Regions from separate parts of the Homo sapiens genome. Here regions 1, 2 and 4 are each linked to region 3. The links come from fine-mapping of genetic effects on gene expression. A gene starts in region 3. Each other region holds a variant in brackets. All regions are shown on one strand. Distances are from middle to middle.

What was found. PIP is the estimated chance that this variant, and not a neighbour inherited with it, causes the effect. A credible set is the group of variants that fine-mapping cannot tell apart.
Region 1: its variant is the best candidate, but not a certain one, in a credible set for the expression of PAK1 in whole blood (INTERVAL, PIP 0.62).
Region 2: its variant is the best candidate, but not a certain one, in a credible set for the expression of PAK1 in monocytes after Pam3CSK4 (Quach 2016, PIP 0.85).
Region 4: its variant is the best candidate, but not a certain one, in a credible set for the expression of PAK1 in whole blood (INTERVAL, PIP 0.52).

What each region holds. Positions count from the first base shown.
Region 1 is chr11:77,263,596-77,268,799 of GRCh38, reverse strand. GDPD4 (glycerophosphodiester phosphodiesterase domain containing 4) reads left to right here. Exons shown (of 17, transcript NM_182833.3): 10 at 261-343. Among named protein-coding and RNA genes, the nearest start is that of GDPD4, 35 kb to the left of the region's middle. The variant C/T (reference allele first, on the strand shown) is at 3,155.
Region 2 is chr11:77,496,324-77,501,527 of GRCh38, reverse strand. It overlaps a transcript of PAK1 not described here. Among named protein-coding and RNA genes, the nearest start is that of PAK1, 25 kb to the right of the region's middle. The variant T/C (reference allele first, on the strand shown) is at 2,226.
Region 3 is chr11:77,471,981-77,476,980 of GRCh38, reverse strand. PAK1 (p21 (RAC1) activated kinase 1) reads left to right here and starts at 2,887. Exons shown (of 15, transcript NM_002576.5): 1 at 2,887-3,429. RefSeq lists silencers at 2,653-3,012, 3,243-3,292, 3,313-3,622 and an enhancer at 2,863-3,779.
Region 4 is chr11:77,448,441-77,453,644 of GRCh38, reverse strand. The region is part of intron 1 of PAK1 (p21 (RAC1) activated kinase 1); the gene reads left to right. Among named protein-coding and RNA genes, the nearest start is that of PAK1, 23 kb to the left of the region's middle. RefSeq lists enhancers at 4,151-4,580, 4,160-4,930. The variant T/C (reference allele first, on the strand shown) is at 2,994.

The sequences.
Region 1 (5,204 bases), 210 kb after region 3:
AAGAGTTCATTGTAAAGGCTGGACTTGAATCCAGGCCACCTAACTCCCAGTCCATTTCTCTTTACTGTGCCCAGTGACATTGTCTCAGATGAGCAGAGTCCCAGAATCAGCTTGGACGGAGGGTATACAGGTTTTGAAAGGAGATCTCAGGGAGCCAAGCTCTGCTCCCCAAAATCCTACTGGGCTCTACCCCTACCACAAAAGGAATGCTGGGAGGAGAGACTCTGAGGCTTAGGGCCTGATGTCCTTTTCTTCTACAGTTGGGGCCTGAGAATACCATGATGTCCTTTGAGAAAGCTGTTGAACATGGAGCCCATGGATTGGAGACTGATATACACTTAAGGTAAGAAAGCAGGGAACTGGGGTGAGGGGAGGAGGGTATAAGTTCAATGCCATGCAAGAGAACCAGCCTGGCCTGAGGTTGTAGAGACAGCAAGCCCTGGGGAGTTGTTCCTGTGTTCATATGGCATATATGCATGTACTACACAAATGAACCACATCTCACAAACCGCACCTCTGCATCTCCATGTTTTCAATGACAGGGTTACAAATCAGACACACTAGATATAGTCTTCACACATGATTCACATATGGCCCCATTGCAAACCGTGCTTACCACTTCACTCTATGTACTACCTTAGCAATTTATTTAACATTCCTTGAGCATTTGCTGTATTCCAGGCCTTCTTCTGAGTGCTTGGGAAATGCAAATGAATAAGATGTAGTCATACCTAAAAGATGTTCCAGCTAGTGAAGGAGACATGGGATGTTTACAGATAACTACAGAATAAGGCCATTTGTGGCAAGAGCCTTCCAGAGAAAAATAAGTGTAATGGAACCTCAGTGGAGGAAAAGGTCACTTCCTGTTGTGTGGGAAAAAAAAGAAAAAAAATTTGTGTGCTCAAAGTTGTGTTTGGGTTGAGCCTCGAAGGAAAAATACCATTTTACCAAGCAGAGATGGGGGAAGGAGAAAATTCCAGGGAATTCATTCTGAAAAGCTTTTGCTCTAAGACCCTATGAGGAGAATGAAAAGACAAGTGTCAGACTGGGAGACAATATTTGTAAAACACATGTCTGGCAAAAGACTTGTGTCTAGGATATATAAACTTTCAAAACTCAACAGTAAAATGAAAACAAAAACAAATACAAACCAAACAATCCAATTAGAAAATGGACGAAATACATGTGTAGATATGTCACTGAAGAGAATATACAGATAGCAAATAAGTACATGAGAAGATGTTCAACTGCATTAACCTTTAGGAAAATGCAAATTAAAACTAATACTACTCATCTATCGGTATGGCTAAGTTAAAAAATAGCAAGAACAGTAAATGCTGGCAGACAAATTGAGTCACTCATATGTTCCTGGTGGAAACATAAAATTGTATAGCCACTCCAAGTAAGTCTGGCAGTTACTTAAAAAACTAAATACAGTCATATCTCACTTAATGATGAGCATACGTTCTGAGAAATGCGTTGTTAGGCAATTTTATCACTGTGTGAATATCATAGAGTGAACTTACACAAACCTAGATGGCATAGCCTACTACACACCTGGGCTATATGGTATGACCTGTTACTCTTCGGCTGCAAGCCTGTACAGCATGTTACTGTACTGAATACTGTAGGCAATTGCAGAACAATGGTAGGTATTTCTGTATCTAAATATATCCAAACATAGGAAAAGTACGGTAAAAATAACAATATAAAAGATAAAACATGGTACACCTGTATAGGGCATTTACCATGAATGGAGCTTGCAGGACTGGAAGTTGCTCTGGGTGAGTCAGTGAGTGAGTGGTAAGTGAATGGGAAGGCCTAGGACATTATGTACACTACTGAAGACTTTATAAACACTGTTCACTTAGATTGCACCAAATTCATAAAAAAATTTTCTTCAATAATAAATTAACTCCAGCTTATTGTAACTTTTTGACTCTTGTGATAACACTTAGTGTAAGCACAACTACATTGTACAGCTGTACAAAAATATTTTCTTTCTTTATAACCTTATTCTCTAAGCTGTTTTCTATTTTAATTTTTTTTTAACTTTTTTGTTAGAAACTAAGAAACAAGCACACACATTAGCCTAGGCTTACACAGGGTCAGGATCGTTCATATCACTGTCTTCTACCTTCACATCTTGTCCCACTGCAGTGTCTGCAGGGATAACATGCATGGAGCGGTCATCTCCTATGAAAACAATGCCTTCTAGAATACCTCCTGAAGGACTACCTGAGGCTGTTTTACATTTAATTTTTTAAATATATAATAGAATGTATATACTCTAAAATAACAATAAAAAGTGTAGTGTAGTAAATATATAAACCAGTAACAGTTGTTTATTGTCATCCTCAGGTATTATGTATTATCTGTAGTTGTATGTGCTATACTTTTATATGATTGGCTGTACAGGTTTGTTTACAGAAGTGTCACCATAAACATACGAGTAATGTATTGTGCTACAATATTACGGCTACGAAGTCACTAGGTGATAGGAAATTTTCAGCTCCATTATAATCTTATGGGGCCACTGTCATATATGAGGTCCGTTGTTGACTGAATTGTCATTATGTGGCACATTATATACTTACCATACACCCCAGAAATTGTACTCCTGGGCATTTATTCCACAGAAAAGAAGACAATGTTCATATAGAGAAAAACTTCACATTAATTTTCATAGCTGTTTTATTTGTAATAGCCCAAATCTAGAAACAACCCAAATGTCCTTTAAGAGGTTTAATGATTAAATAAACTGTATTCATCCATACTGTGGAATATTACCCAGCAATAAAAATGAATGAACTATTGAAACATGCTGCTATTTGGATGGACCTCATGGGAGTTACTTTGAGTGAATAAAGCCAGTCTCAAAAGGTTATATACTGTATGATTCCATTTGAAGATCACATTCAAATGACAAAATTAAAGGGATGGAGAAAAATCAGTGGTTTCCAGGGGTGAAGGAGGCAGAGAAGTGGCTCCCACTTTAAAAGGTAACACAAAACTCTTCTTGTATATTTACTTTTCTGTATCTTGACTATGGTGGTGGTGATATGTCTGCACATGTGATAAAATTAACAAAATATACAAATAAGTTCATGTAAACTAAATATAGAACTAAATATACAAATAAGTTCATGTAAAA[C/T]GAATGAAATCTGAATGAGGTCACAGATTTTATCAGTGTCAGTTTCCTTGTTGTGATAGTATAGTATAGTTATGCAAGATGTTACTATTAGGGGAAATGGGCTAAGGGTATATAGGATCTCTCTGTATTTCTTACAAACCCATGTGAATCTACAATCCTCTCAAAATAGAATTTAAAGAAAAGAATTGCGTTAGCTTTCTTAAGAAAAGATATAGATAAAGTGATTCTAAAATCAGAAGATGATCCATTCTGACATTTTAAAACTTTTCTAGGCCCTATATACTGCTCCAGTTTATGCTCCATGTCTTCACTTTCTTTTAAGCAGCATTCCTCCAAAGAGTGGTCTGTACTGCTCTAGAGGATCAAAAGGTTTTATTGGTCTACCCTTCTAGGTTCTTTGGCTAGTCTACAAATTAAATTGACATAAGACAGATTAACAGGAGAAAAATAATTTTAATTACCTATGTGCACATGGGAGTCCCACAAAAATTTGAAACTCAAGGAAAAGGCCAGATGATTGAAGCTTGTATAGTTTCCTGAGCTATAGAAAGGAATAGGGGTGTGCGGGGGCAGAGACAAATTGTGGTAAGAAGAGGGAAGAAAATGTGTGGTGAATAAAGGTTGTCTTATTAAACAGATATAAGTCTGTTGATAATAAAATGATTTCAGAGCAGCTCTCTTATTGGTACAGATACTTTTACTAATGAAAATTTCCTTTATAAATATAAATTTCCTTTACAAAAGGGCAACTTTTCAGAGCTTCTCCTGTGTCTGCAGTTTCTCAAAATAACCAGCTCAAAATAATCAATATGCCAAAGAGGTATATATTGGGGTGGCATATTCTGGTCTCCTGCCGTCATATTTTAGGGTGAGTGTCTTGAACTCCAACATTGCCTTTCTTTGCCTTCTCTCAGTTCTCCCCTTTGTTTTGGATAACTTTTAATCCTTTTTGAGCCTATCCCAATCAGGCTTCTTCTACACCACTTCTCAGAGCTCTTACTAAGTTATCAGGGACCTCAAACTTCTTAAACATCATAGTAAATTTTCATTTTCATCTTACTCTCTCAGCATTTGAGAAGTCCTTCATTTTTGAAAGACTTTCTTTATTTGGCTATTAGAATACCATACTCTCCTGATTTTCTTCCTACCTGGCTGTTTCCTATGTGACTTCTTTTGCTGGCTCCTTCTTCCCTTCTTGCCTTTAAAGTGTTGGAATTTTTGAGATTTGTGATAATATAGTTGTAAAGGATGTTTGATCCCTACCCCAAGTTCACCCCAAAGTGAATTTGATAGTGCTCATCCCACTTTATAAAATTGCAGCTATGTTGTTCTTAAATGTGAAACACGTTTATATGAAAAAACCTTCATTTGAATATATTTTTGAGAAACATTTGAAAAGGCAGAGACATTTTTTAAATCTAAAAAGCAAGTAATGTAAACAAGTTATTTGCATCTGAGTGAAAGCCTATGGGAGATTCTGAGAAGATCTACGCAAAATTTTTGGCTGCTATTATTCCCAGTCCTCTTATAAAATTTTTAGCATAAAAGCCCAGCCAGCCATACACCTCTCTGGAGAACACTGAATTAAGTTTTCTGGGGATTGCAGAAACACACAGATCCTGAAGAAATGTTGACCTCCTCGTGTGGACCAATAGGAGAAATCTTGCCAACAGTCACTGGAAGTCCATGGAAGCTGAGTTAGATTGAAAGATCCCAATAAGCTTGTTTGTGCCTATTGCTCTTACTCCCTCTCTACTAATGCAGTCTCCGCCTAACTTTTTAAGGGAAATAAATGTAAATGTCACACATAACAAGTATGTGTGTGATAACTAGTTTCTGTTGGTATTGCCTACCCTTTAGCATCCATGATGAACAAAATGTCAAAAATTTTAATGAAGATGTGTCATGCCAAGCCATATGAGAACCTGAGACAAAAGGAAAAATCAGTAATACTATCTTATCTTCATTTAAAATTTAATATTTTGTTTATAGTGGATTTTTGCATTGGTTTTGTCTTTTAAATATTGTATTAAAATAGTATTTATCTTGC
Region 2 (5,204 bases), 24 kb before region 3:
TCAAGCCATTTGAGAGAAGGGGTAAGGGTGGTTCCCCAAGGGAAAGCTGTTGCTTATTACCCGAGAAGAGGGGTCGAATTCAGTGAATGCTCAGCAGGCACAGAGAAAAGATGCCACCACAGGGAGTAGAGAGAAGAGAGAAGGATGAAGAAGAGAGGAGTCAGTGGAGAGACTGAGTCCGGGTGGAGTGAAGGGCCGGGGAAGCTCCCCTCTGGCAGATAGTGGTCCTTCCATTTTGAATTGTTTGCTTTGCTATGGATGTGAAACTCTCCTGGATTTCCCCTTCATCCTCCACATTGCCAGCAAATTCTACTAACTTCAAAACTGCTCTATGGGAGTGGGTTGTTTTTTGTTTTTTGTTTTTTGTTTTTTTTTTTGAGACGGAGTCTCGCTCTGTCACCCAGGCTGGAGTGCAGTGGTGGGATCTTAGCTCACTGCAACCTCCGCCTCCTGGGTTCAAGCGATTCTCCTGCCTCAGCCTTCCAAGTAGCTGGGACTACAGGCGCCTGCCACCACGCCCGGCTAATTACCCGGGATTGGGTTTTTGGTGGAAATTGGAGGGACTAAGTTTTGAATGTGGATCTGCACACTGCAGAACAGAGGACCATGTGGGGAGCCAGGAGCCCAGAGGCTAGCTGGCTGTGGTAAGAGAAGTCTGTTGGGAAAGAACTGAATTTTTTTTTTGAAACAGTGTCTCACTCTGTCTCCTAGACTGGAGTGCAGTGGTGTGAACACAGCACATTGCTGCCTCAACCTCCCAAGCTCAAGCAATCCTCCTGCCTCAGCCTCCTGAATAGCTGGGACCACAGGCATGCATCATCACACCCAGCTAATTTTTTTGTGTGTGTGGAGACAAGTCTCAGTGTGTTGCCCAGGCTGATCCTGAACTCTGGGGCTCAAATGATCCTCCTGCCTCGGCTTCCCAAAGTGCTGAGATTACAGGTGTGAGCCACTGAACCCAGCCAGAACGGAAATCTTGAGGAGGGCTTTGGATTTCCACAAGACGTGGAATTGGAGGGAGGAATCCAGTTAATTATGTTTCGACTTTTTTTTCTTTTTTTGAGGTGGAGTCTCACTCTGTTGCCCAGGCTGGGGTGCAGTGGCACAATCTCGGCTCACTGCAACCTTCGCTGCCTGGGTTCCAGCAATTCTCCTGCCTCAGCCTCCTGAGTAGCTGGGACTGCAGGCATGCACCACCATGCCTGGCTAATTTTTGTATTTTTAGTAGAGACGGGATTTCACCATGTTAACCAGGCTGGTCTCGAACTCCTGACCTTGTGATCCGCCCACCTCGGCCTCCCAAAGTGCTGGGATTACAGGCGTGAGCCACCGCACCCGGTTTATATTTTGATCTTTAAGGGCAGGAGGGCTCTCAGTTGAATCTGAGTTATGTATATTCATCTTTGCTATACAAATTCTGTGTTTGTGAATTTTCATTTTTATGAACTGATTATAACAAAATTTTCCAAGGGAGCAAACTTCTTCCACTCACTTATGGTCAGGGCTTGCTTATCTCAGATGCGTGTGTTCAGAGGTCTTCCAGCCACTTTCAGAGCCAGGTGTAGAAGCAGAGATGGAAGTGTTCGCTGATGCTGGATGGTGGATTTATCAGGTGAGTGCTAGAGAAGGTCAAAAGGGTGAGACATTTAGCCAGGCTGTATCCATTCTGTTCTGTAGAAGCCAAAATGCCGGAAAGTCTACTGCTCTGTGTGTGTATGTGTGTGTGTGTGTGCAGTGTCAGCACAAACCAACTCAGTGCTTAGGGAGCAATATGGATCCAGGGCCCACATCAACTCTAAATTAACATTCCCTGACTGTTGGGACAGACAGGCATGTAAACAACTAATTAAGACAAAAAGTGTAATAAAGGTATAACGAAAGTATCACTGGAATACTTAAGAGGCAGTACCTACTTCCTCTAAAGTTGAGAAGGGCAGAGTGGGCATGAAAGACTTCCCAGAGGTGGGATCATGGGTTGGATCTAGAAGGATGAGTAGGAACTATACAGTGAAGGATAAAAAGGAGGAAATGCATTCCAGGATGAGGGAACAGCTTGAGTGAAGACATCTCTAAAACTGTATGAATAGTAGGAACATTTGTCTGAAAAATATATTTATTTACATGTATACATGTGGAAGAGACTATGCACCAAAATGTTAGCAATAAGCCAGGTGTGGTGGCATGCACCTGTAGTCCCAGGTATTCAGGAGGCCAAACTGCGAGGA[T/C]TGCTTGAGCCCAGGAGTTCAAGACCAGACTGGGTAACATAATGAGACCCCATCTCAACACAAAGAAAAAAAATGTTAACAATAGATATTCCTGGTAGGATTATAAGTGAATTTTTGAAATTTTATTTTCCTCCCTTTAAAAATTATCCTTCTCTTTTTTTTTTTTTAGTAGTGAGTGGGTATCACTCATTAATATGAAAAGTTAAAGACCTTCTGCCAAGTTTGGTAAATTTAATAGAAGGCTTTATATTAGACTTCTATGTATAAAAAAAATTTCTTGCAGTTTGAAGAGGGAATAAAATTTGGCAGGGCGTGGTGGCTCATGCCTGTAATCCCAGCACTTTGGGAGGCCAAGGCGGGTGGATCACAAGGTCAGGAGTTCGAGACCACCCTGTCCAACATGGTGAAACCCAGTCTCCACTAAAAATACAAAAATTAGCTTGGCATGGTGGCGTGTGCCTGTAGTTCCAGCTACTTAGGAGGCTGAGGCAGGAGAAATGCTTGAACATGGGAGGCGGAGGTTGCAGTGAGCTGAGATCTTGCCATTGCATTCCAGCCTAGTGACAGAGCAAGACTCTGTCTCAAAAAAAAAAAAAAAAAAAAAAAAAAAATTACAAGCAAGGGTGTTAAAAATACAATTATTTCTTCGGGCATTCATTTAACAAATATGTACCATGTATTCTTTTGAGGTTGCTCAGATGATACAGGCAGGGAGAGCCCTTCAAAGGCAGGCCATATAGATAAAAAATGAATGTAAGACAAGGCAGAGAGGCCAAGGACTGTGAGAGGTGGGCCGTGGCACCATGTGTGTGTGTGTGTGTCGGAGAAAGAGCAATAATGAGCTTTTATAAATCACTGCAATGATTCCTGTCAGCATTATCCAAAAAGACAGCAGACATCACACTGGAAGTGTGAATTCTGACCCATGAGTGGGTCATGATATCAGTTTAAATGGTCAAGACTGGAAATTTTTGTTTTGTTTTTAAATAAACTTTTCCTTTTGGAATAATTTTAGATTTACCAAAAGCATAGAACGATAGTTCAGAAAGTTTCCACATGTTTTTCACCCAGCTCCCCCTAATGTTAACATATTACATAACCATGGTACATTTGTTAAAGTAAGAAATTAACATTAATGTAATATTATTAACTAAACTATAGATTTTATTTGGGTTTCACCTGTTTTTCCACTAGTGTCCTTTTTCTGTTCTACGTTTCCAGAATACCACATTACATTTAGAAGATTAGAATTTTTTAAAAAATGAAATAATATAAAATAGAATAGAAAATACTTGCACAGACTAAGGTTAAGTATTATTTTATGAAAAGTTGTTTCTACTACATATGTAGGATGTATTTTTTACTGAAGGTAGCAGTTTTTTAAAAAAGAAACAGTCTTAGAAGACACCTAAAAATTAAATATTCTTGCCATTGTGAAGATTAATATTCTAGTGAAAAACAAAAAACACTTGCATACAGCATTGTGAGCACTATATCTCAAAGTCAGAAAATGCAAAGGAAACTAAGACAGTAGGAATCAGAGGACACAGCAAGAGAGAGATCCTTTTGTTCCTTCCATAGTGATGTACTGAACAGCTTTGCCCTTTGGAATAGAACTGACTCCCTACATGCTGCTGAGTTGGATGGAATTCTTGGCTCAAGCAGCTGAACAGAATTCATCACTTGATAGAAATACACCACACACACGATCTCAGAGCCCAGCAATGCTGTCCCCATGTCCCTCTCCTAAGCCAGGCTGTGCCCCTTGTAAATGAATTAATGGCTGTGAAAGCAGTTGGTAAAAGGCAGTTGGTATGTGCACTTTGAGTGAGTCACTTTCCTTCTAAGTGAGTCACTTTCCTTCTGGGTCTCAGTTTCCTCATCTGTAAAATGGGGCTTCCCCATATGGCTTTTGGGAGAATCAAGTGAGAAGAAGAAAGTGTTTTATAAATTGTTAGGGGCTATACAGATGAATGTAAAAATTATTATTTCAGATGTGAATTGTCATTGGTCAACCTTTTGAGGGCAATAATTATATTTTATTCATCTCCATACCTCTAGTGCCTACCACCATAGCCATCCCACAGACTCATCTCCATGGGGAGATAAGGACCTGGGCACACCTTCCCCTTCCTGGACTTGGAGATGTTCGCCCAGTTCCTGAAGGCTTCCCACACCCTGTCCTGCTCCTCTATACAGTGGGACAGATTCAGGCTAGATAAGCTCCATTGACCTTGCAGATTCAGGAGTGAGTATGGACCTTCACCAGAGCCCTGCCTAGTGAAGAGTCTCCTCAGTTCAAAGGAGGCTACTGAGACTGGTTCTGGGTTCAAATCACCCATTTCAGTTTTTTTATTTTTATTTTTATTTTTTTTGGAGACATAGTCTGTTGCCCAGGCTGGAGTGCAATGGCATGATCTAGGTTCACTGCAAACTCCACCTCCCAGGTTCAAACAATTCTCCTACCTCAGCCTCCTGAGTAGCTGTGATTATGTGCACTCACCATCACGCCAGGCTAATTTTTGTATTTTCAGTAGAGACAGCGTTTTGCCATATTGGCCAGGCTGGTCTCAAACTCCTGACCTCAAGTGATCTGCCTGGCTTGACCTCCCACAGTGCTGGGATTATAGGCATGAGCCACTGAGCTCAGCCTGAGTTTTTATTTTTATTTCTTTTTCTTTTCTTTCTTTTTTCAGGTTCTTGCTCTGTTATCCAGGCTGGAGAGCAGTGGCTCACTGCAACCTCTACCTCCCAGGCTCAAACAATCCTCCCACCTCAGCCTCTTGGGTAGCTGGGACTACAAGCGTGCACCACCACGCTGGCAAATTTTTTTGTATTTTTTGTAGAGCCAGGGTTTCACTGTGTTGACCAGGCTGGTCTTGAACTCCTGGGCTCAAGTGATCTGCTTACCTCGCCTCCCAAAGTGATGGGATTATAAGATCGAGCCACCTTGCCCAGCCTATTTTTATTTCTAGTTAA
Region 3 (5,000 bases):
AGATGGAGTTTCACTCTTGTCTCTAGGCTTAAGTGCAATGGCGCAATCTCGGCTCACAGCATCTTTACCTCCTGGATTCAACCGATTCTCCTGCCTCAGCTCCCGAGTAGCTGGGATTACAAGCATGTGCCACCACGCCCAGCTAATTTTGTATTTTTAGTAGAGATGGGGTTTCACCATGTTGGCCAGGCTGCTCTTGAACTCCTGACCTCAGGTGATACACCCGCCTCGGCCTCCCAAAGTGCTGGGATTACAGATGTGAGCCACTGTGCCTGGCCAACAATACACATTTATTATTTCACAGTTCTGTAGTTCAGAAGTCCTAAATGGATGTCAGTGGGCTAAAATTAAGGTATCATCAGGATACCATCTCTTCCTTTCCAGAGGCTCCAAGGGAGGATCCATTTTCTTGCCTTTTCCATTTTCCAGTCTGCTCCCAAAAGCTGGAGAGTCCCTTTCCCCAAATCCTCAATTTACTCACATCTGCAGAGTCCTTTTGTCATGGAAGGTAACATATTCATAGTTCCCAGGGATTGGAATGTGAACATTCCATTGGATGAGCCATTATTCTGCCTAGTGCAGAGATCACGAAAAGACAATCCAGATTAGAGTCAATTTACTGGGTTAGGATCCTGGGTTAAGTTACTTAACCCCTCTGTGCCTCAGTTCCCGCATCAATAAGATGGGTGAGGATAACAACAGTATCTACCGTAGAGGGTAGAGGTTTAAAGACAGTGTTTGTAAAGTGCTCAGAACAGTACCTGGCACATAGAAAGAACAATAGGAACATTTATTAAATACATTTTTTTTGAGACAGAGTTTTGCTCTTGTCACCCAGGCTGGAGTGTGGTGGTGCAATCACAGCTTCCTACAACCACCGCCTCCTGGGTTTAAGCAATTCTCCTGCCTCAGCCTCCTGAGTAGCTGGGATTACAGGTGCCTGCCACTACGCCCGGCTAATTTTTGTATTTTAGTAGAGATGGGGTTTCGCCATATTGGCCAGGCTGGTCTCAAACTTCTGACCTCAGGTGATCTGGCTGCCTTGGCCTCCCAAGTGCTGGGATTACAGGCGTGAGCCACCGCGCCTGGCCTTATTAAATATATTTTAACAACATATTGATACTTAGGTATATGTCAAGCACTGTTTTAGGTGCTGAGGATATGGAAAGGAATATGACTTGGAACTCAAGAAATTAGATACACAAATGCAGTTACTTCCATAAAAGGCATAGAAATACTATAGAATTACAGTTTTGTTAAGGCTTAGGGAAACTTTAGAAATATTAGTCAAATGAATATGAATATGAATATGAATGACATTTGAGCTCAGCTTTGTACAATGAATAGGTGTTGGCCAGTCAGCTAAGTAGGGAAGAGCTTGAAGACATGAAGAAATGTGTATTCAAATAACGTTAATATTTCAGTGTGCTTGGAGCAAAAAATAAATGATGTGAGACAAAGCTAGAAAGGCTAGTGTAAGCAGTCAGGTAATAAAGTGCCAAGTTCAGGAGTTTGAACTTTATCCTGAAAGCAATAAAATCCTTTCGGTGTTTAAACGGGAGGACATCATCAGATTTGTGCTTTTATAAGGCTACTCAGGTAACTAGTGAGAAAAATAGATTGAGTTTGAAGAGACTAAAGGTTGCTCCAGTTGTTCAGGTGGTGGTAGTAGAAGACGACACAGGCAAGGACTTGAAAAATATTTAGGAGAAGCTACAAGACTTGGTGTCCAACTTGATATGGATGTTGAGAGAGGAAGAACGGGGAGCTATTAGTATGTCTAGGTTCCTGGCTTAGGGGATTGTTGAATGGGTGGCCCATTCATTGAGAACGGAAAGGAACGTAAGAAGCAATTTTGGGGGGGAAATAATAATAATAGCCAACATTCTAAAGGGCTTGTTACTATTACCATGGTAAAACTGAGGCTTAGGAAGACCTAGTTAAGGTACTACTTATTATTACAGAAAAATTACGGCTTAGAAATGTCAAGGTCCTATCACTAATATTTGAATAGCTAGGATTTCAAGCAAGGCAACCTGATTCCGGACTCTTAGCCTTTCTAATGCTGTCTCAGTTTCGCACATGTTGAATCTGAGGTACGAAGAGTATGCAGGTAATGCTGCTCGGGAGGTATTGGGAAATACACAATCTGAGCTCAGGAGAAAGAAAGCTTTGGGTCGAAAGTACCCTCCACGGTAGGGGAAAAAACGTGAAAGGAAGCCCATTCTTTTCGTATGTCAGTTCACATTAGTTCAAACATCTCCGTTATAATTTCTTTGTCTTCCTCCCACCCCTGCCCCCTCTCCCACAGAAAGAAAACATAATACATGTCTGGCTGTGAGATCACACGACATCGGATAGTTTTCAAATTCAGCCCTTGACAACGAGCTCATAGATGCGGTGGTGCTTTGTTAACCTGAAAAGGACCCTCAGCGCCGGAAGTTAGCCGTCTTTCTCCATCCTGACTACTACAGTAGCCCTCCCAGAAATCGTCCCAAAATTGTCTGATAGAAAGGCTGCACGGAAACAACCCGCCACGGACAGCGGACCGAGAACAGTGACGCGACGCGATGACGTCACGCAGCAAGCGGGTGATTCCCCAGCCTCTGGCGTCACGCGCCGATGACGTAATCCCAGGCGTTCGCCCTCATGCGGGCCAGGGTTTGGCCTCGCTCCCACGGGTCGGTCAGGCCCTCCCCGCCCCCTCTCACCTGCGGGAGGCGGGGCGGGCACGGCTCCACCGGAGCCGCAGCCGCCGCCGCCGCGCCGGGGAGGGGGAGTGGGGGAGGGGGAGGGGGAGAAGGGGAAAGGGCAGAGGGGAGGAGGAGGCGGGAGGAGGAGGAGTAGGGGAGCCAGTGAACTAGGCGGTCAGGCCTGCCGGGCGGCGTACAATAGCGCGGCTGTGGGCGGGGGAGGCTGCCCTCCCGCGGCTGCAGCCGGAGCCGAAGGTGGTGGCTGCACAGTAGACGCCCCCTCACGGCTTCCCCCACACGCTCCCGCCCCCTCGCTCGCCCATCGCGCTTCCCTCACAGGCTCTGCAGTCCTCCCCCACAGACGCCTTCCCCCTTGGACTCTCATTCCCTTTTCCACGGAGCCCCGCGCTTTCGTGAGCCCCCTCGAGGAACCTGGTCTCCGCATCCAGTTACCACCTCCTGCCTCAGAGGCCATCTGAGCCCTTCGCACCTCGCCCCTCAGTCCCCCCTTCCCCCCCCGCCCGCGTCGCCTCGCTCCCTCCCGCCCCCCCATCATCCCTTCCCTCGCAGTTCCCCTGTCCTGAGGGGAGCCCCGCCACGGGCAGCGCGGCGGCGGCGGCAGGAGGGAGAAAGTGAAGCGGTAGCTCGCGCACACTCGCGCCCTCACTCCCGGCTAGGCGGCACCCACCGCCGGGAGGAGGAGGAGGAGCCGAGAGGAGCTGAGCGAGCGCGGAAGGTGAGAGCGGGCCTACCGCCCAGTACCCCTCGCGTCCCGGGCTGCCAGGGCTGGGGCGCGGGGGTGGGGACGGGTGGAGTGGGGGTCTGGGCCCATTTATTTCGCGTTGCGGGGCCGGGCGCCTGGGCGGGAGGAGGCGCCAGGTAAGGTGAGGCGGGCGGCGCCCCGCGAGGCCCGCTCCCGTCGGGCCAACAAAGGCCCCCTGTGCGCGTACCGGCGGGGTCGCGGGTCTCAGACGCCGGGCGATTCGAGAGACCTGGGAGAGGGAAGGGGCGGGGCGGGGCCAGGCCAGGCTGGAGCCGGGAGGCCACACGAGTACCGGTCCGGGACCGAGTCCGTCCCGAACTTCGCAGTCCTGCGGCGCTCACCCTGTCCCGCTACGAGGAGGCACAGCAAAGCGGCGCCCAGTTCCTTCTGCATGGAATAAATGACCCCTTCCAGGCTTGGACAGTCACCTTTAGGGTTCTACTCCCTGAAAAATAAGGGCTGGTAGGACTTGACTTACGCAGCCCCTCCCCCACCCCGGAATATTCTGTAACTTGGGAAGTGAAAAACAACCGGGGAAGGAGATTTATAGTTATTTTATGTTCATTATTACGTTTGAAAAGACATGATTGTTGTAGCCTTCGCTATCCTATTTCAGCAGTACACATTACTGGGAGTGTTTTGGAAGAATACTTGAGAAGTAGTGGGTGTGGCGTTGTGAGCAACGTCCTTGGTTTTTAAACCCCTTGGATAATTGTTCTACTGTTACAAAAACTGTGAACAGTGAAGGGAAGGGTTAGTTCCGTGGTTACTAATAAAAATTCAGATTCATTAGTCTTGACTTTAAGAATTGTTCCTGAGAACAATCTTTAATTTTGCCTCCTACATTTTTGGGTTCTCTTTCAACTCTGTCAGGAGAAAGTAGGAATTATCAGTACAGATACCTCATCTCTCTTACCCTGTGGCTTCATCTACTTCTTGTGTGACCTTGAGCAGGTCACTTCCAGCCTTAAAAGCTCCAGAAGTTTGGTTTTATGCCCCAAAACGGGCAAGTAGCAAGCACCGGACTCAGCTTTCAAGAGTCCACTGAAGAATTCCCACACTGTGAAGTCTTTGCTGGCCTCCATCCTGTCTCTCCTCTTACAGACAGAGCTGATTTCTTCCCATTGGCCCGGTGGGATTTCTACCACAGCACTTACAACATTTTGGTTCCTATTTGGAAAATTCTAAGTCAGGTGCATATAAAAACTCCCCACCTCAACTAGAAACTATGCCTTTCAAAAAGGGTTTTGGGAACATTGACCCTGAAAACTTCCCATACTTTCCCTGAAGCTTATCCATACTCTTTAACTACATGAGCTCATGGGTCTACCTTGGTAAATTTGCTTATTCAGTCAATTCGTTTATCCAACATTACTGGAGTTCGGAGAGCTACTATGTTTCAGGCCTCTTGCTAAGGCTATGGGGATTCAGTCTATTAAGATATTCCCTGTCTTCAAAGAGCTCAAAGTCTAATGGGTGAGGTAGACAAGTAAACAATGAAGGTCTGCCCTAATCTCTGGGGGACTCCAGTTGTACAGGTAGTA
Region 4 (5,204 bases), 23 kb after region 3:
AGCTTGCTGTGACCATACATATTTTATGTTCTTCCCTGGCACTATAATTCATTCCTTTTTATTTTCTCCTGTGAGGTAATTAAAATTTGTAATACCATGCCCTTTTCCCCCTTGTTTTTTTTTTTTTTAATATATCTCACATTTTCTAAATATAGAATACTTACAAGTTCATGTTAAGTTTCAGTGGGAAAGGTGTTTAGAATCAGTTTGGACTCTCTCCTTTGCTTTATATATAAAGAAACTAGGACAGACAGGGAAATAATTTTTCCAAAAAAATTTTTTTTTTTCCTGAGACTGAGTTTTGCTCTTTTCGCCCAGGCTGGAGTGCAATGGCGCGATCTCGGCTCACTGAAACCTCTGCTGCCTGGGTTCAAGCGATTCTTCTGCCTCAGCCTCCTGAGTAGCTGGGACTATAGGCGTGCGCCATACACCTGGCTAATTTTTGTATTTTTAGTAGAGACGGGGTTTTGCCATATTGGCCAGGCTGATCTTGAACTCTTGACCTCAGGCGATCTGCTTGCCTCGGCCTCCTGAAGTGCTGGGATTACAGGCGTGAGCCACCGCACCTGGCCTCCAAAATCTTATATATCCCACTTCTTCCTTCTTCCTATTTCTTGGCATGGATGAATTTACATCTGGGGCTTTCATTTTTTTGTTCTGTAATACTAGTAAAAAGTCATTTGTAGATTGTTTAGATCTGATGGGATTTAGTTAAAGTCATAAGCCTGATTTGCTGTGAGGCAGGGCTGATGTGCCAACCTAGGAAGAGAGAAAGCTAGTGAATAGAAGTGTTAGGAATCCAGCAGAGGGAAAAGGGCCCTACCATGAACACACTCTTTACTCCTACTTGGCTTGTTATTAGATGTGCCAACCCTGTTATTAGGTGGCTTATGGCTTCTTCTTTCTTTATATCTAGGGTGTTTGAGGAAGGTAAATATGCCTTTTGAATGGGTAATTTCTACTCTTTGGTGCTGAGCATTTTCCACCTTCGTCTATACTGTAAATAACCAGTCTTTTTTTTTCTTTTAGAAAGTTACTGCTTGAGTGGCAAGGAAATTAGAGAAACTGCTTCTCATAGACTAGTTGGGTTGCTGGCTGAAGGGGACCCTAGGAGATGTCTAATTCAACACCCTTATTTTATGAATGAGAAACTGAAGCCAAGAGAAGAAAAGCAGCTCATTCAATATTATATAAGTTAGTTACAGAGTCAAGACCACATCTCAGCACTTCTGACTCCCTATTAAGTATATTTTTACTACACCTCTCTGCAAGGCAAGTGTAAGAGGAATTGTGGGGTAGTGTAAAGAGTGCAGATTTGAGGGCATGAGATCTGGGTACAAACTGTGGCTCTGCTACTTACTGACCTGTTTCTCAGAAAGTAATATCACTTCCTTAAGCACCAGTTTCCTATTTATAAAATGAAATTATGTTGATACTCTGCCTCACAGCGTTATCATTAGAATGAAATGTGAGATGCAGGGGAAAAAATGAAATGAAGACTTTAAAGTGGACGTGGCCAATTTACTTATGAATTTTTAGCTCCATCACTTATTAACTGTGTGATTTTGGGCAAGTCACTTAATTTCTGTGAACGTAGTTTTTTCTTTGTAAAATTGAGACAATAATAGCTCTCTTACAGGGTTGTTTTGAGGACATTAATATATATAAATGTAGGGGAAAAGAAATATTTTTCCCATTGCTATGTTCATGGCTGAGGCTCCTGTAGCAAAAGACATTAACGAGAGAGGTCGGGCGTGGTGGCTCACGCCTGTAATCCCAGCACTTTGGGAGGCCGAGGCAGGCGGATCACCTGAGGTCAGGAGTTCGAGACAGCCTGACCAAAATGGTGAAACCCCGTCTCTACTAAAAATACAAAAAATTAGCCGGGCGTGGTGGTGGCGCCTGTAGTCCCAGCTACTCGGGAGGCTGAGGCAGGAGAATGGCATGAACCCAGGAGGCGGAGCTTGCAGTGAGCAGAAATCGTGCCACTGCACTCCAGCCTGGGCGACAGAGCAAGACGCCGTCTCAAAAAAAAAACAAAAAAAAACAAAAGACATTAACGAGAGAAAAGCAAGCAAATATATTTAATACAAGTTTTACATGACATAGGAGCCTTCATAAGGAAATGAGGATGCAAAGAAACAGGCAAACTTGTGTATTTTTATGTTTAGGTTTGATGGAAGAAGTGGGTAGTCTTGGAGAAATATGATTGGACAAAGGCGGTATGATGTAATGGTAATAGGATCAGGGTTGGAGGGAACTTAGCAAGGCTGGTTTGTTCAGATTTTTCTGTATGTCCCTGTGTCTTCAGAGAAAAATGAGGCTTTCCTCTGGGAATAAGGAGGGTACCTCTTGAATGAGGATCTGATTACCTGCTTCAGGGGAGAAGGGTGAGGGGAAGCTGAGAGTGAGAATACTTTCTTGCGTCTGCTGTTTTCTCATATGCTAAGATGTCATATTTTGGGGTAGCATGTCTTGAACCCCATTATAAAGAATCAAAGTGGTGGCTGGAACATAATAGGTAGTCAGTAAATGTTTGAGATATTCTCAGAAGACTTAGTTCTGTCTTCTCAAATGGTTTCCCTAAAGTCTTAAAATAAATACATCAGAACTTCTTGTTCTGTGGTTTTAAAGTGTTTTGTGGAGTTTGATTCCAGAGGCTATAGGTGGTGTAAGGTATGAGCTTTGCTGTTAGTCAGATTTCCATTCTAAACTCCTGTGGCACATAGGCAAGCTCTTCTGCCCAGAGAAGGGCCTCTAGAGATGGCAGGTTTTGTGGTAAATGGATTGAAAAAGAGGAGGAGGAAACTTGGTAACTGGGAAACTTGGGTCACTTCTGCAGGCAGTTGCAGCCCACTGAATAGCAGTATGTCAGGACCTTAGTGGTGAAACCATTTTTCATTGTGATCTCTGTCTCTGTTATTCTAAGTGTCTCAAAAACTGGAACCATGTCTAAGTCCTCTGCTGTTTCAACACCTGACCCACAGTAGATA[T/C]GCCAATGTATTTTTTTGAAATAATATCTATCTAAAGTGGAGAACTTCTGTGGCCCATAGAGTTCCATAAATCCCTAATGGCTCCTAATTCTTCACCCCAGCTTCACCTTGCAGAGATATTTGTATTTAACAAGGATTTTCTAGTCTTTAATCATAAGGATTTGCAGGATTTCAGGTCTTGGGTTTTTTAGGCCTTGCTCTGCTGCCTACTTCCCTTTGCAAATATGGTCAGGCCAGACAGCTATTTCCTTCATCCCTAGTCATTGTGTGGGACCTGCCAGGTTCTTTCGGGTTTTTAATGCTGGGGTGGTATTTGTGGCTTTAATGCACAAGAGTTGGGGAGCATGAAACCCACATGATCAGGTAAACATCATTCTCTCAGTGGGTCCAGGGTTATGAGAAAACATAATGCTGGGATGTTCTTTCTTCCCAACTCTACCCCTAGAATTGATACTTTTATGTAAGCCATTAATTCAGTAAATACCTTCTGAGCATATATACTGTGGATCAGACATTCTGCTGGGTGCTTTAAATAATTATCTTTCCAAATACTCACAAGTTAATACTTTGAGTTAGACTGAGGGTATTGCCTTCAATTTCGCAGAAAAGGAGTCTGAAGTTTAGATGAAAGGAAATGACTTGCCTTAGCTAGTAAAGGGCAGACCCAGGATTTGAAACCAAGTCTTCATGACTAAAAGATAATCATTGATTGTCATGCTTGTCTATGCTTTCAGAATGGGAAGCTCCTTGAAGATGCATGTCTGATTGAATTTTTGCTCCCTGTTCTCAGCACAGGGGCTAAAACAGAATTTTTAAAAAATTGAATATGTAATACATTGGAAAGTCCTAGATAGAATAGGGGAATTGGGGTGAGGGTATTGAGAAACTGTTTCCTAGTCCACATTATTTCCCTGGAGAAGCTCCAGTCCTTAGGGTGATTTTTTTTTTTTTTTTTTTTTTACCTATAGGATTGAAAAGGAAAGCATTATTCATTCCAGCAACCCATAAGGAAAACTAACACAAACATTGTAATGCTTTAAAGATCTTCGTGTCTCATTGGGAAAATAACACCTCCTTCACTGTGTTATTTTGAGGAAAAGTGAGATGATAAAAGAGTCTGCCTGAACTCTAACGTTTTATGTTAAGTTGTTTTCATGCCTGGCTTTACCTGCCCTATCCCCTTTCTGGGCTTCAGTTTCTCTATGTGTACAGTGAGATGTTGAACTGAATGGTCTTGCTGCTCTTCCTTCCTTCATTAACATGAGAACAGATAGTTGATGCCTCTGATGTTCATGTTGTTCCCATTGCCCTTTTCTCTTTAAGCGCACTGCCTAGTTTCCTTTAAAGTCGTTGCCTTCTTTAGTTTTCTTTTTAAGCTGTTTCTGTGTGGGCTAGTGTTCCCTTTTGAGGTTGAATTGAATTGTGTAAGGCCTCAGGAAGTGGTGGAAGCACCTTCCTCAAACCTGGTTGCACCAAAGGCCCATCAAGTCAAGTCTTGTCCCCAAAGAGGAAGAGAAAGCCTGGGGTTCTTAGCCCAGGCTAAGATTGAAGGAGTTTCTCTTTCGAGCTTTCTGGGTTAATTTCAAAACGTACAGGAGGGACATTTTCTTTTAAATTTCAAACACTCACCCTGTATATCATTAATATTCCTTAGCCATTTTTGTATAATATCATTTTTTAATTTCTATCCACCTTCTTAAATCTGTCCCTTGGGTCAGACAAAATGAATTCAACCTTTCCTCCACATGACAATTCTTTATAATCACAATAGTGATTTTATTACTGTTCTTCTCCAGCTAAATAGTTTCAAGAGTTTCTCAAATGACTACCTCTTTTTGCCTATTATACCACTTTGCTTTCCACAAAAAACTTCCCATGGGTAGTCCCTTCCTCATGCTAATCTTATTTCTGGTTCTGTATAACCTATCACTTCTTTGTAAGTTTTCACACTATTGCTGAAATAAGCCAAACATTCTTTCTCATGTTCCCTTAACTTGGGTCTCATAGCATTTTGTTTGTTTAACATGTTTTCCTTTGCTTGCTGTCCTTACACTCAACAACCTTCAAGACCAAGTTCAAATATCTGTCTCTGATGCCTTCTCTGACATTGTCCTCCTGTGCCAGGCAGAATTAGTATTTCTTCCTTCAGTGTTTATGTGTTACTCTGTTGTAATGGCTATGACATCATTTCTTATATTATATTTGTACTGT